2 linked regions of the Homo sapiens genome follow. The protein of the gene in region 1 purifies or fractionates together with the protein of each later gene. This does not show direct contact. Each region holds a gene or a part of one and is shown in the gene's direction. Other genes may lie near its edges.

Region 1 (3,500 bases):
AGTGCAGTGGTGCAATCTTGGCTCACTGCAACCTCTACCTCCTGGGTTCAAGCGATTCTCTTGCCTCAGCCTCCCGAGTAGCTGGGATTACAGGCATGTGCCACCACAACTGGCTAATTTTATATTTTTAGTAGAGATGGGGTTTCTCTGTGTTGGTCAGGCTGGTCTTGAACTCCTGACCTCAGGTGATCTGCCCACCTGGGCCTCCTAAAGTGCTGGGATTACAGGCATGAGCCACCGTTCCTGGCCCAGTGGTAGTTTCTTAAAGGCTGGTTGCATTGTGGAATGTGAAACCATATCATTGAGTCTTTCTTCCTTTGTTAAATTAAAATCCATTTGTCTGTCTTGCCTTTTTAATGGATCTTTTACCCATGCATGCTTTTGTAATATCATGCTTTAGTCATTTGGAAAATATTAGTTTGCTGAGTTAAGCAGATCTTAAAAATATTGATATATTTCTTGTACAGCATCAAAAATTACATTCTATCTCATAAAAGTTTTGTGAGTTTTGGGAAGCTGCTAAGCTCACAGTGGTGGATACAAGTTTAACAGAATTGTAATTTTTGCATAAAATTTTGAATTTTATCATTAACACAATTATTTCTGTTTTCCTTGAAGTGACAAGATCACTTTGTTTATTTGTTAAAAGAAAATGTTTCCCATAGACCCAAAGTCTTAATAACCATAGTTTTTCTGTCAGTCTTTCTTTCAAGTAAAAATATCTAGTTTAGTTTGTATCACAAATAATTATGCAAGCATTTTTCTTAAGACAACCATAGTGTTTCGGTTTGTAGCAGAGGTGCTTTACGTATATTCTCATTTTGTCACACAGACCATAAAAAAAGGATGCGTTTAAGAGTTTGGCTTTAATGAAGTCAATACCTTTTTGCTGATTCATCAGAGACATTCTTAAGCAAGACTGCCTTTTTTTTTTTTAAAAAAAAAAAGCAACTGAGAATGTGTGGTTATCAAGAAAGTAATGACTGCTAGTACATTTTGGTTTTGCTGCTTTTCTTCTTGGTAAGGTGTCAGCAGTTTTATCCACCACTGCTTTCATGTTAACCTGGTGAGAAAGACAAACATCTTTATGTTAAAATAATAGCATTGACTTTGTGAACCTTCTGAATGTTCTTAGGGATCCCCAAAGATCTACACACCACCCTTTCCAAACTGCTGATCTAGGCCAGGATTTTTCTCATTTTTAATAACATAGACTAGTTTAACATTCAATTTTTAAAAAATAAATATCTTGAAAGTCAATTTTTTTGTAGGTTTATCCATGTCTTACAATTTTATTTTATTATATTTTTATGTAGGTTTTCCCAAGAACTACAGTTAAAAGTACAGAAAGATGCCAGAAATGTTTCTTTATCTAAAAAATCCCAAAACAGAAAGAAGGAAAAAGAAAAAGATGATTCCTTAGTTGAAGAAAGAAAAACACTTGTGGTACAGGTAAATGTTCATGTTTCACATTTTAGATTTAATATACTTATTTTTTTAAATTTTTTGAGAAAAAATATGATTTTGAAAAAAGTTTTCTGAGCAGTGAGCAAATTGTTAACTTTTAGTTTAGTTGTAAAAATGTATCTTCTCAGTAGATATTACCTGTTTAGAAAACTTAACATATCATGTTTTGAGTACCTGTTATGTGCCAGACTGTGCAACAGTGCTTAAATCACATTCATCCAAGAACATCTAGATATGTGTTTTCATGAACACATATACACACAGACACATGGAACAAACAACCCTCACCCCACTTATCTTTCTTAAAGGATATGAGTGAAAAATATTGTCTGTAGAAATTTATATGAAGTAAAAATTTGAAAAGTGAGATTTGGATACTTAACTTAGGTTTGCTTTTCCTGGTGAACTACCCAGGATCTGTTCTTGATAAGGTAATTCAAATCCACCACCAATCCACTTATATCAAGTACACCAAAAGAAGAAAGAGTTATCAGTTTTGTGTTCCATGACTCTGAATATGTAAGAACAAAAGTGGAATTCTTGATTCCTCTTCCATGAGTTTTTCCACTGATGTGTGTGTATGTGTGTGTGTGTGTGTCTGAGTGAGCTGTGTGAATTGCATTTCCATTCTTTTTGTATTTTCCCAATAACTATCTGAATAAGAATCTGGCTTTAATTTTAATCCCCTAGGAAGAATAAAGAAAACAGTTTCAAAAAGGTGATACTTATGATATTCTGCTCTAGTTGACAAGTACTTTATAAGAAGAGGTAAATTTTCATTCTCTTCAGATCATTAACCTTATTAATATTTTTGTTAATGATCAGGATACCAATGCTGATCCCAAAATTAAGGATTATAAACTATTTAAAATAAAAGGCTCAAAAATTGATGGAGAAAAAGCTGAAAAAGGCAATAGAGCTTCAAATGCCAGCTGTCTCCATGACAGTAGGACAAGCCACAACAAAATAGTGCCTTCAACAAGCCTCAAAGACTGCAGCAATGTCAGCGTGGACCACACAAGGAATCCAAGCGTGGCAATTCCCCCACTTACACACAATCTTTCTGCAGTTGCTCCCAGCATTAATTCTGGAATGGGGACTGAGACTATACCAATTCAGGGTTACAGGTATGAATTAGTAAAATAAGATCAAAAAAGTGTTTAAGGACATATTTGCAAATTGCAAGGGTTTGTCAATTCATCCACATTGTTTTTATTCTCAGAATTCTGGATGCTATTCATTCTTGTCAGGTAGCTGTTTCAAAAGACTTTTTGGCTGTGTGATGAAGATTATTAGCATTTGATCAAAACAATTCACCAAAGTCCTGAGAAAGTAGGGTTTTATTGCTTAAGGTGAAGAGAATCTACAGCTATATAGTCTAATAATGTGAAAGCAGGTTGTCATACTAAAAGAGATAATTTTTGAGTGGCTGCTGCTGCATGGTGTGACTGTGAGCCTATAGTAGTATAAGGAAGCTCCATTTGGGAATTTTGCTGAAAGGAGGGTAATGTATTTGGTAGGAGTTGGGGGCTGCTGGGAGGCATGAGGGTAGTGTTAAAGAATAGAATGTTTCACCAGATTTATGTGCATTGTATATTTGAGAATAGACATTACACTCTGGTTAAACTGCTTGTTAGTTGGTGCTGTGTCATTTAGTTTTGTGCTTGAAAAAATAATTATTGCTGGTTCTAACTTAAAAACATTTTTTTTTGTCGTTACAGAGTGGATGAGAAAACTAAGAAGTGTTCTATTCCATTTGTTAAACCGAACAGACATTCCCCATCAGGCATTTATAACATTAATGTGACCACATTAGTAAGTAAGCAGTTCTCAGTAGTAGAAGAGCAAACACCAGTCAGCTCTAGACTTTTATTAAAATTAAATATGATAGTGAAGTATTGAGAATTTTGTTTGGATACACATAAAGTGAAACCTTAATTGTGCATATATTATCCCAACCCATCATAGTCATAAACGTGAAATTCTGAAAGTTTAAGTTTTATGAGTCTAAAAACTCCTTCCTTCCTTTCTTC
Region 2 (3,500 bases), on another chromosome or scaffold:
GTGGGCACTTGGGGGTGGGGGCTGTGCAAGGGGCTACGGCTCTTCCTCGAGGCCCAGCTCTGAGGGAAAGGCCCAGGTGTTCACAGGGGCCCTGGAGTGGGCGGTGGAGGTGCATGGCCCTGATCCCAGGTGGCTCTGACCCGGGTCTCTCCGCAGCAAATGTACATCACGTATGTGAGGAACTGCAAGTTCACCTCGCCTGGTGCCCTCCCCTTCATCAGTTTCATGCAGTGGACCTTGACGGAGCTGCTGGCCCTGGAGCCGGGTGTGGCCTACCAGCACGCCTTCCTCTACATCCGCCAGCTCGCCATACACCTGCGCAACGCCATGACCACTCGCAAGAAGGTGTGTGGTGGGGCCCTTCCAGGCTCATGCTGGGCATGGGGTGGGGCAGCCCAGGTGCCCGACCCAAGGCAGGGCCTGGGGCCTCCCCGAAGCCCCTGTCTGGAGACAGCCCAGCACCCTGGTGCAGTCGGTCCTTGCAGGTGGGGGAAGGGTGGATGGGTTGAGACCCCGTGTGCAAGATGAGGAAATGATTCCTGTGCCGGCCCAGGAGGAACGTGCATCAGCCTGACTTGTCAGCCTGGCCAGTAGCTGACGTGGTTCTCTCTGACCAGGAAACATACCAGTCTGTGTACAACTGGCAGTATGTGCACTGCCTCTTCCTGTGGTGCCGGGTCCTGAGCACTGCGGGCCCCAGCGAAGCCCTCCAGCCCTTGGTCTACCCCCTTGCCCAAGTCATCATTGGCTGTATCAAGTGAGTTGTGGGGTGGGCAGGGTTGTGCGGGAGGGTCAGGAGAAGCAAATTTGCTGGGACTGTGTGGGCGGTGCCTCTGGCGTTCAGGGCCTTGGGGCCTGAGTCTGTGTCCTGGCCGTCCCTGAGGAAGGGCTGGGGTCCCTGTACCTGCTACGGGGAGATGCTCTGGATTCTGGAGAGCTAGGGCTGGTGGGCACCTGTGACATGAGCTCCTCCAACAGCGGTTTAGCCGCCTCGGGTGCCACCCAGCGTGTGTTCTGGGGGCTTGTGTGCAGTTTGCAGTGAGTTTGGTTCATTACGTGGGGTTCTTGGGTGGAGCACATCTGATGCAGTGAACTGCATTTTGGGTGTGAGCGCTTAGGAGGGTCCAGGCACGGTAGGGGCTGCAGCAGGAAAAGGTGGGAGCAGTACTGTGGCCTCTTTGGCCAGGAGGGGGCATCTGTCTGGCTGAGCCTTAGAAACTCAAGGCTGGGAAGGGAGGTGGGAAGTCCAAGGGAAGAAGTAGGAAAGGCGGGAACAGGGAGGAGAGCAGGCAGGAACAGATGACCCCTGCCACCGTGTTGAAATAAAGCTGAAAGCTGGGTAAGGTACCTGCAGCCCCATAGCTGGGCAAGGGGTGCAGGTCCCTGGGGTTCAGACGTGCCTTGTCCTGCTTTAGGGGTCTGATGTCGGTGAGTGGGGGAGGAGGTCCAAGACAGCAGGGGGAGGGGCAGGGGCTGCCAGAGCCGGGGCCTCTGCTCACTCGGCCTTCCCACCCCCAGGCTCATCCCCACTGCCCGCTTCTACCCGCTGCGAATGCACTGCATCCGTGCCCTGACGCTGCTCTCGGGGAGCTCGGGGGCCTTCATCCCGGTGCTGCCTTTCATCCTGGAGGTGAGTGAGGCTGTGGTGGGCGTGTGGCACCTCTGCCTGCTCCTGTAGGGAGCATCTGCTGCTCCGGGCGTCTGTGCTGAGTTGTCCGGCGACTTCCCGGAGCCCTGGCCGCCTCCTTGTCACGGGTGTCACGAGGACAGTGCTCCTCCGTGTGCTGGGGGCAGTGTTGGGGAACGTGGGACCACTGGGGATGAAGGCGGCTGCTGCTAGGGCTGTGCTTGAGGATGCCGGGACCTGACCCTGTAGGTGCTTGCCCAAGACTGGAGTAGGCAGGAGGCGAGATGGGCCAAAACCCAAGTCTGATTGCTGAACTGTACACTGAACAGTGCCCTGCCCTGACAGTTGTGTGCATGTGTATGCATTTGTATGGGGGATGTGTGTACATCTGGGTGGGTGCGTTTGTCTGTGCATGCATGCGTGTGTGTGCACCATCTGGGTGCATGGGTCTGTAAATCTGTGTGTGTGTGCATATCAGTTCATGTGTGCATCTGTATGTGTGTATGCACGTGTATCCATGAATGCCTGTGTGCCTGCAGGTGTGTGCATCTGTGCGTGTGTACACCTGTGTGTATGCATGTGTGTACCTTTGCGTGTACCTTTGCGTGTGTGCACCTGTGCATGTGTCTTTGTATACCAGTGTGTACCTGTGTGTACCTGTATGCATGCACATGCGTGTGTACCTGTGTGCACCTGTCTGCATGTGTGTACCTGTGCGTGTGTGCACCTGTGTGCATGCATTTGCGTCTGCATGTGTCTACCTGTGCATGCATGAACCTTTGCATGTGTGCATCTGTGTGCATGCATGTGTGTCTGCGTGCATCTATGTACCTGTGTGCACCTATGTGCATACACACGTGTCTGTGTGCACTTGTGTGCATGCATTTGCATCTGCATGTGTGTACTGTGCGTGTGTACCTGTGCGTGTACCTGTACACTTGGGTGCATGCATGCACGTCTGCTTGTGTGTGCCTGTGCGTGTGTGCACCTGTGTGCATGTACGTGCGTCTACGTGTGTGCCTGTGCATGTGTGCGCCTGTGTGTACCTGTGTGTATGCATCTTTGCACGTGCACATGCCACTCAGGTAGGGAAAGATTGGAGTCCGAAGTTTCAACTTTCAGTGGGTGGGTTAGGCCCCACCCCGCTGTAAATTTAGGAATTCACGATCTCCACCCTGTTTATCTAATGAGTTCTCAGCCTCATGAAGGCCCAGAGTCGTGTCACAGCTGTCCTTGGGGCTGGGTCCCCAGGTTGCTGGGTCCAGAAGGTATGGAAGCCCCAGGCACGTTCTGATTCCCCTTCCACTGAGGCAGGGATGCTGAACATCTTTAGGAAGCCATGTTCACTCCCATGGCAGCCAGCAGTGGTCTCTGATTGCCCAGCCCTTGGCCTGGCCCCTGTGTCTGTGGGCCTCCAGCTCTGCTGCCCAGCTCCAGGCATGCTTTGTGTCTGTTTCCCTTGTCCAATCTCCTTGGCTACGTGCTTTCTTACTCTCTTGCAGTGTCTGTTTCTTCACTTGTGCACTGCCCTGGTTCACTGCAGCCGCACCCTGTAGGCCCCTCTCACGCAGGGATGCAGGCCTCTCCTCTCCGGAAAAAGCAAACCCTAAAAGCTAAAACAAAGCCCTCAGCTGTAGGCCGTGCCTGCCCTTCCCCGGTGCCTGGACAGGAAGCCAGTCGCCTGCCCATACTTTTGGCCCAGGCTAGAGAAGGGCAGTGTCCTCCCAGAGGTTCATCAGTACCAGGGCGTTTTCCCATCTGGACCTGAGCTCAGCTGTCTGGCAGCCACCCCTGCTGAGTGGGGTGTCTTGCTGGGGCCTCCACCCTTGGGCCCCCCATAATCTGCTTCTGTCCTCTGGTGCCCCAGCATGTA

Evidence for each region.
Region 2: the proteins of CDKL2 (region 1) and NOC2L purify together in Homo sapiens (affinity purification with mass spectrometry; one large-scale study listed by BioGRID and IntAct). This does not show direct contact.

Annotation. Positions count from the first base shown.
Region 1 is NC_000004.12:75,596,029-75,599,528, reverse strand, and holds part of CDKL2 (cyclin-dependent kinase-like 2), read left to right. Parts: intron 1-1,316; coding exon 1,317-1,452; intron 1,453-2,292; coding exon 2,293-2,594; intron 2,595-3,188; coding exon 3,189-3,282; coding exon of another isoform or gene 3,283-3,286; exon of another isoform or gene 3,287-3,362; intron 3,363-3,500.
Region 2 is NC_000001.11:949,257-952,756, reverse strand, and holds part of NOC2L (nucleolar complex protein 2 homolog), read left to right. Parts: intron 1-156; coding exon 157-345; intron 346-617; coding exon 618-757; intron 758-1,518; coding exon 1,519-1,630; intron 1,631-3,500.